Linked DNA regions of Homo sapiens: region 2 is linked to region 1. Evidence: fine-mapped expression QTL. Tissue or cell type: whole blood. Region 1 holds a variant in brackets; the other region holds the start of a gene. Each region is shown on its reference strand, or each on the opposite one. Region 1 has its middle 29 kb from the start of NEK6. Region 2 holds the start of CRIP1 (cysteine rich protein 1).

Region 1 (2,899 bases):
ACGTTTAAAGGAAAAACAACATTAGAGGAGAGGGAGAAGAGAAGAAGGAGGAGAAGGCACCTGGGGAGGTGGGTCCTTTTTTCTATTCCCCAAGTCGTTTCTCCATCTATCCTCTGGGTTTGGGAAGTCAGTGGGGAAAGGTTTGACTGTTTCTCCAGCCAGATAATCATCTATGAGCAGTGGCCCCTCACCCTCACTCTGCTTGTCACCATCTGGTACATTACATATTTAGTGTATGGTTATTGTCTCTCTCCCCTTGAGAAGAGGGACTTTATTTTATAACCCCAATGCCTAGAACAATGCCTGGCACACAGAAGTCACTCAACACCTGCTTTTTTTTTTTTTTTTCTTTTTTTTTGAGATGGAGTCTCGCTCTGTCCAGGCTGGAGTGCAGTGGCCCAATCTAGGCTCACTGCAACCTCCACCTCCCAGGTTCAAGCAATTCTCTGCCTCAGCCTTCTGAGTAGCTGGGATTACAGGCGCCCGCCACCACGCGTGGCTAATTTTTATATTTTTAGTAGAGTTGGGGTTTCACCATCTTGGCCAGGCTTGTCTTGAATGCCTGACCTTGTGATCCACCCACCTCGGCCTCCCAAAGTGCTGGGATTACACGCATGAGCCACCATGACCGGCCAATACCTGCTTATTAAATGAGCACGTGCAAAAGATCGCCTCCCTCACCCATGTCTGCCTAGGGAGGACAGTGACCACGTTCTGTCCCTATTCCATGTTCCTTCTCACTTGCCTTTCCCCCAGAGTGAACACCCAGTGGAACTGATGAAAGTGTAAGCAGCTCTTTACTCAAAGGTCCAGATATTTGGCTAGGCATGGTGGCTCATGCCTGTAATCCAGCACTTTGGGAGGCCGAGGTGGGTGGATCACCTGAGGTCAGAAGTTAGACCAGCCTGGCCAACATGGTGAAACCTCGTCTCTACTAAAAATACAAAAATTAGTTGGGTGTGGTGGTGGGCCCCTTTAATCCCAGCTACTTGGGAGGCTGAGGCAGGAGAATCGCTTGAACCCAGCAGGGGGCAGAGGTTGCAGTGAGCCAAGATCATGCCATTGCACTCCAGCCTGGATGACAGAGCAGATTCATCTACCAAAAAAAAAAGTCCAGATATTTGTTCCAACACCATGTTTCTGTGTTTTGTGTGTGCATATGCATGTGTGAGTCTGTCCGTCTGGGGCTGGGATGAGGGGACTAGGGGCTGTGCCCCTCATGCAGCCATTTCCTTCTACTCTATTCCCTGCCCAGGTAGGAGTCTGGTTAAGTGCACCCCGAGAAGCATGGAGAGACCCCAACTCCCCATCGGGGCCACCCTTCAGCCTCCGGGAGGGGCCTGGAACTCGGCTTTCTCCAGGAGATTTGGGGAACATGTTACCGGGGTCCTTCAGCGGCCTCTCATCCACTTCTTGGCTGCAGAAATTCCCTGGCCACCTGGGCACGGAGACACTCTGGCTCCACCAGCCCACGCAGAAGCCTGAACTCATGTAATTAGACATAATGACACATGGCGGGAGCTTCCAGAATCTCACAATCTAATGACACACCCACCTCCCAACCCACCTCAGGGGCCAGCAGAGCTCCTAATTAGGTCTGGC[G/A]CCAGCAGGTGGGAGATCCAAGGGTTGGGGGAGCAAGGAGAGAATCCTGGCCTTGGGGTTTGTCAACCTGTGTGCCAAGTCCAGTTTGATTACTTTTTGACTATGAGGCGCTGGGCAAGTCAATTCACTTCTTCAAGCCTCCATTTTCTCATCTGTAAAATGGGGTTTTGTATTTACACCACAAAGTGCTGTTGTGAGGAGTGTGAGTTCCCTCCTGCTGGGAGGCTGTCAGTGGGTGGGTCTGGGGGAGACTGGCCTGCCATGCCCAAGGCCAGGGCCTGTGTCCTGGGGTGGGACCTCTTTCAGGTGTAGGGGAAGCTGCCACACCTTCAAAGGCCGATTGGACAAAAGGCAGTTCTCCAAAACTCATTGAAGGACCACTGCCTCATATTACCGAATTGACTGGTTTTTCAAAAACTTGTTTAAGAAATATTCTTTTTGGCTGGCATGGTGGCTCACTCCTGTAATCCCAGCACTTTGGGAGGCCGAGGAGGGTGATTCACCTGAGGTCAGGAGTTCGAGATCAGCTTGGCCAACATGGCGAACAAAACCCCATCTCTATGGGTGTGGTGGCACACACCTCTAATCCCAGCTACTCAGGAGGCTGAGGCAGGAGAATCACTTGAACCCGGGAGGCGGAGGTTGCAGTGAGCCGAGACTGCGCCATTGCACTCCAGCCTGGGTGACAAGAGTGAAACTGTGTCTCAAAAAAAAAAAAAAGAAAAATTTTAAAATTATGTTTAATGTACATTCTTCCAATGGCTATATTCCATTTTAAGGACTATTTAATTTGTCCAAAGTTCATAATACATTTGCTCTTCTAGTGCTCCTCCTCCTCTTCTTCTTCTTCTTCTTCTTCTTCTTCTTCTTCTTCTTCTTCTTCTTCTCCTTCTCCTTCTCCTCCTCCTCCTCCTCCTCCTCCTTCTTCTTTTAGATGGAGTCTCGCTCTGTCACCAGACTGGAGTGCAGTGGCACGATCTCAGCTCACTGCAACCTCTGCCTCCTGGGTTCAAGTGATTCTCCTGCCTTAGCTTCCTGAGTAGCTGGAACTACGGGCATGTGCCACCACATCCAGCTAATTTTTGTATTTTTAGTAGAGACAGGGTTTTACCATGTTAGCCAGGATAGTCTCAATCTCTTGACCTCGGGATCCGCCCACCTCAGGCTCCCAAAGTGCTGGGATTATAGGCATGAGCCACTGTACCCAGTCTATTCTTCTTAAATAATATCCTATGAATATGTTTTTCACAGTATCACATGGGAACTTTAGCTTTTAGACTGATTGTTTTTAAAAACC
Region 2 (2,899 bases), not on the chromosome of region 1:
TCCTTGCCCAGAGAGGTCACCCTCTCGGCTGCAGAGGCACAGACAGGCCCCGGTGAGACGCTGCAGGACGCGGCGCCTACCCACCACTGGCGTACCCGCCTCTTGCAGCCAGCTCTGCCCAAGGCCCTGTGCACTTAGCCCGCATCCGCCCAGCCTGGCAGCCCACCCTAAGGTCTCAGCACCCTCCATGAGGGGAACATCTCCAATCCCCAGAGCCAATACAACTAAACAAAGCGCGGGGTCGCTGGTCCCCGGGGCACTTTCGGGTGCGGCCGGGAATCTTGCTCCTGAAGGCTGGGTGGGGCTAGAGGGCGAGGCCGAGGGTCAGGGGTCGCGGCTTAGGTCAGCAGGGCCTGGGCCTGGCTGCCTGCTTTCAGCCCCGGGCCTCTGCGGTGGCAAGGGTGGAGCCTGCGACAGCCCTTCTCGGCGGGGACAGGGGTGACTTCCCACTTCCTCCCTCCCCTCGGGGCGCGCGGGCGCGGGGCAGGGAGGCGGGCGCCCGGGATCGCGCCCCGGGCGTCGGTTTCCGCGTCTGTTTCCACTTAGCGCTGGGGGGCGCGGCCCCAGCCCCGCGTTCCTTCCAGCCCTGCGGGTCCCCCACTCAGGGCGCGCCTGAGAGGAAACGGCAGAGACCGTAGGACCCAGAGACGGGGAGGCTCAGAGCCAGAGGTAGCCCGCCGAGCACAGCAAGACCACTAGCAGGCAGAGATCGCCAGGGCCCTCGGACGCAGGGGCCTCCACCCTCATCCCGGGGCAGGCGGCGGGCCAGGCTGAGGCGTTTTCAGGCTGGGGCGCCGCCCCAGGGACCCAGCGCCCCCGGTCCTCCTGAGCGGTCCCCAGCCTCGTCGCCCCGTCGGCGGCGCCTCCTCGCGGGGCCGGTGTGGGCGCGCTCACCGAAGTACACCTCCTTGTTGCACTTGGGACACTTGGGCATGACGGCTCCGGGTCCGGTGCAGGCGGCAGCGGCTGGGGCGGCACGGGCTGCAGGCGCGAGACTGGGTGGATCCGGCCTGGTCCGCGCCTTTCAGGGACCCCGGGACCCCGCCCCTTGGAGACCCCGCCCCTCGCGCCCCGCCCTCTGAACCCAGGACTTGGACCCTGGGGACCTCGAATCTAGGCCCAGGGCCCAAGAAAGATCATCTGGTCCACCCCCGCCTTCAGGCAGGACCCGGGCCTGACTGAGGACGGAGCGCGGGGGGGCAGGGGGCCATGGGGACTTACTGAGAGGGCGCAGCTCTTTAGGCGAGTTCAAGCCGCGCCCCTAGCCCAGCGCTGTGATGTCTCCCGGGTCCAGTTCCGAGGCAAAAGGCTCACCCGCAGCAGGAAACGCCGCTCCCACCCCCAGCCCTACCCCACCGGCACCCGCCCGAACCCCAGATCTGCCCGGGCCAGGACTGGACCAAACATCACTAAAATGCAAAGAGATGCAAAGCAGCCCGCGCGCTGATCCTGCCCTCCCCAGGACGGAGGGTCGGGGACAATTGCCGGAGAGCCCCCGCTGTTGCCCCCCACCGAGGAACCCACTCTGACCTTCCATCCCACGCAGGGTTACGAGGCCGCCCCTGTCAGTCCCCTCACTCCCAAGGGACGTCCCCGCCTCTGCTAGCTCCCCTGACCTCCGCTGCTCTGGGAGGTCCATCGGACCGCAGCGGGAACATCCCCGGGGAATTCAAAAGCGGGGACTCCCAGAGAGGGGAGCTGTAGCTTGAGGACCGATCGGCTGCGGGGGCTGCGGGGGCTGGGGTTTCGGCCGGCAAAAGAGAGTTCAGCCACCCCCAGGCCGGCTCGGAGATGCCCGGACCGGGCGCAGGGAGGGGCCCTTATCTCTGCGGGTAGCGCCCAGGGCGGCCAGAGCGGTCCAAGTACGCTGCAAAGTTGAGGCGGAGGATGGTCCCGGTGCCAGGCGGAGTCTGTCCCGCCTCACCCGCCCCCCAGATTCAGGAGGGCCAAGGGGGCTGCGCTGGCCTCGGGCTTTGGGGTCAGCCCTCTAGCTGACTGGCCAGCCTCAGGAAGGGAGCCCAGGTCACTGTCAGCCCCCTCTCCTGTCACTGAGCAGGGGAGCCCTCTCTCTGCAGGCCCTTCACCTCCATGCTGCATGGAGCTCCCTGGGAGCTCCCACAGCACAAGGGCGGTGCTGCCCTTCCTCCCCACCCACCATCCCTCCTGTCAGCCATGTTAACCAGCGTCCTTATCTCCCCTCGATCTCCACTGGGCCTGTGCTGGCCCTGTCCCCGCTGGGGGCGCTGGAGACCATCCTCCTGGGCCCCAGGAGCCGCTGGCCTACCGCTGTCGGGCCCTGAGCCCTAACTGCACCTGTGATCCCAACCTCACTTTCCCTGAATCCTACCGCACCCCTGTCGGCACCTCGAGGCCTGCACTTAGAGGAAGAGAAGCCGCCTGCCCTGCCCTGTCTGCCACCAGTCCCCAGCTTGGGGAGAGGGCAGGGGCAGCAGGGCTGTAGGACGGCCAAGGCACAGGCGTCTGGCACAGAGGCCACACTCCAGAGAGCCCCACACCAGCACACCCAGCCCAAGGCCACATCCTGCTTGCCCTCCTCCTGGCGCCCCTCTAAGGCCACAGTTCTGTCCCCCGACTGGGGCTAAGTCCTGGGGTCTGATAGGACATTCCACAGGGGCCCATTGGAGCCCTCCTCATCCCCCATTCTGAGACCTCAGAGATAAGGTTTCCAGAGTAGGGGTGCGCTCCTGTCCTGCAAACTTGGAACCCCCACTCTCCAGCCCATGAGCCTTGAAACCCACTCTGAGGTCTGGGCCCACCTGCCATCTCCACTGAGTGTGGGGCATCGTGGGACAAACCTGCAGACAAGCAGAGGGAGAGGCAGAGGCACCAAGAAGGGGGAGAGGCCAGGGGAGCCCGGACAGTATTGGGGAGGCCGGGG

Evidence for each region. PIP is the estimated chance that this variant, and not a neighbour inherited with it, causes the effect. A credible set is the group of variants that fine-mapping cannot tell apart.
Region 2: it holds the start of CRIP1, and the variant in region 1 is the best candidate, but not a certain one, in a credible set for the expression of CRIP1 in whole blood (TOPMed, PIP 0.59).

Annotation. Positions count from the first base shown.
Region 1 is chr9:124,227,545-124,230,443 of GRCh38, reverse strand. No RefSeq gene overlaps it. Among named protein-coding and RNA genes, the nearest start is that of NEK6, 29 kb to the left of the region's middle. The variant G/A (reference allele first, on the strand shown) is at 1,603.
Region 2 is chr14:105,485,295-105,488,193 of GRCh38, reverse strand. It overlaps CRIP1 (cysteine rich protein 1), which reads right to left and starts at 1,308. Exons shown (of 6, transcript NM_001311.5): 1 at 1,222-1,308; 2 at 895-995; 3 at 1-28. The coding sequence starts at 934. RefSeq lists an enhancer at 1-122 and silencers at 369-578, 749-878, 929-1,028, 1,039-1,088.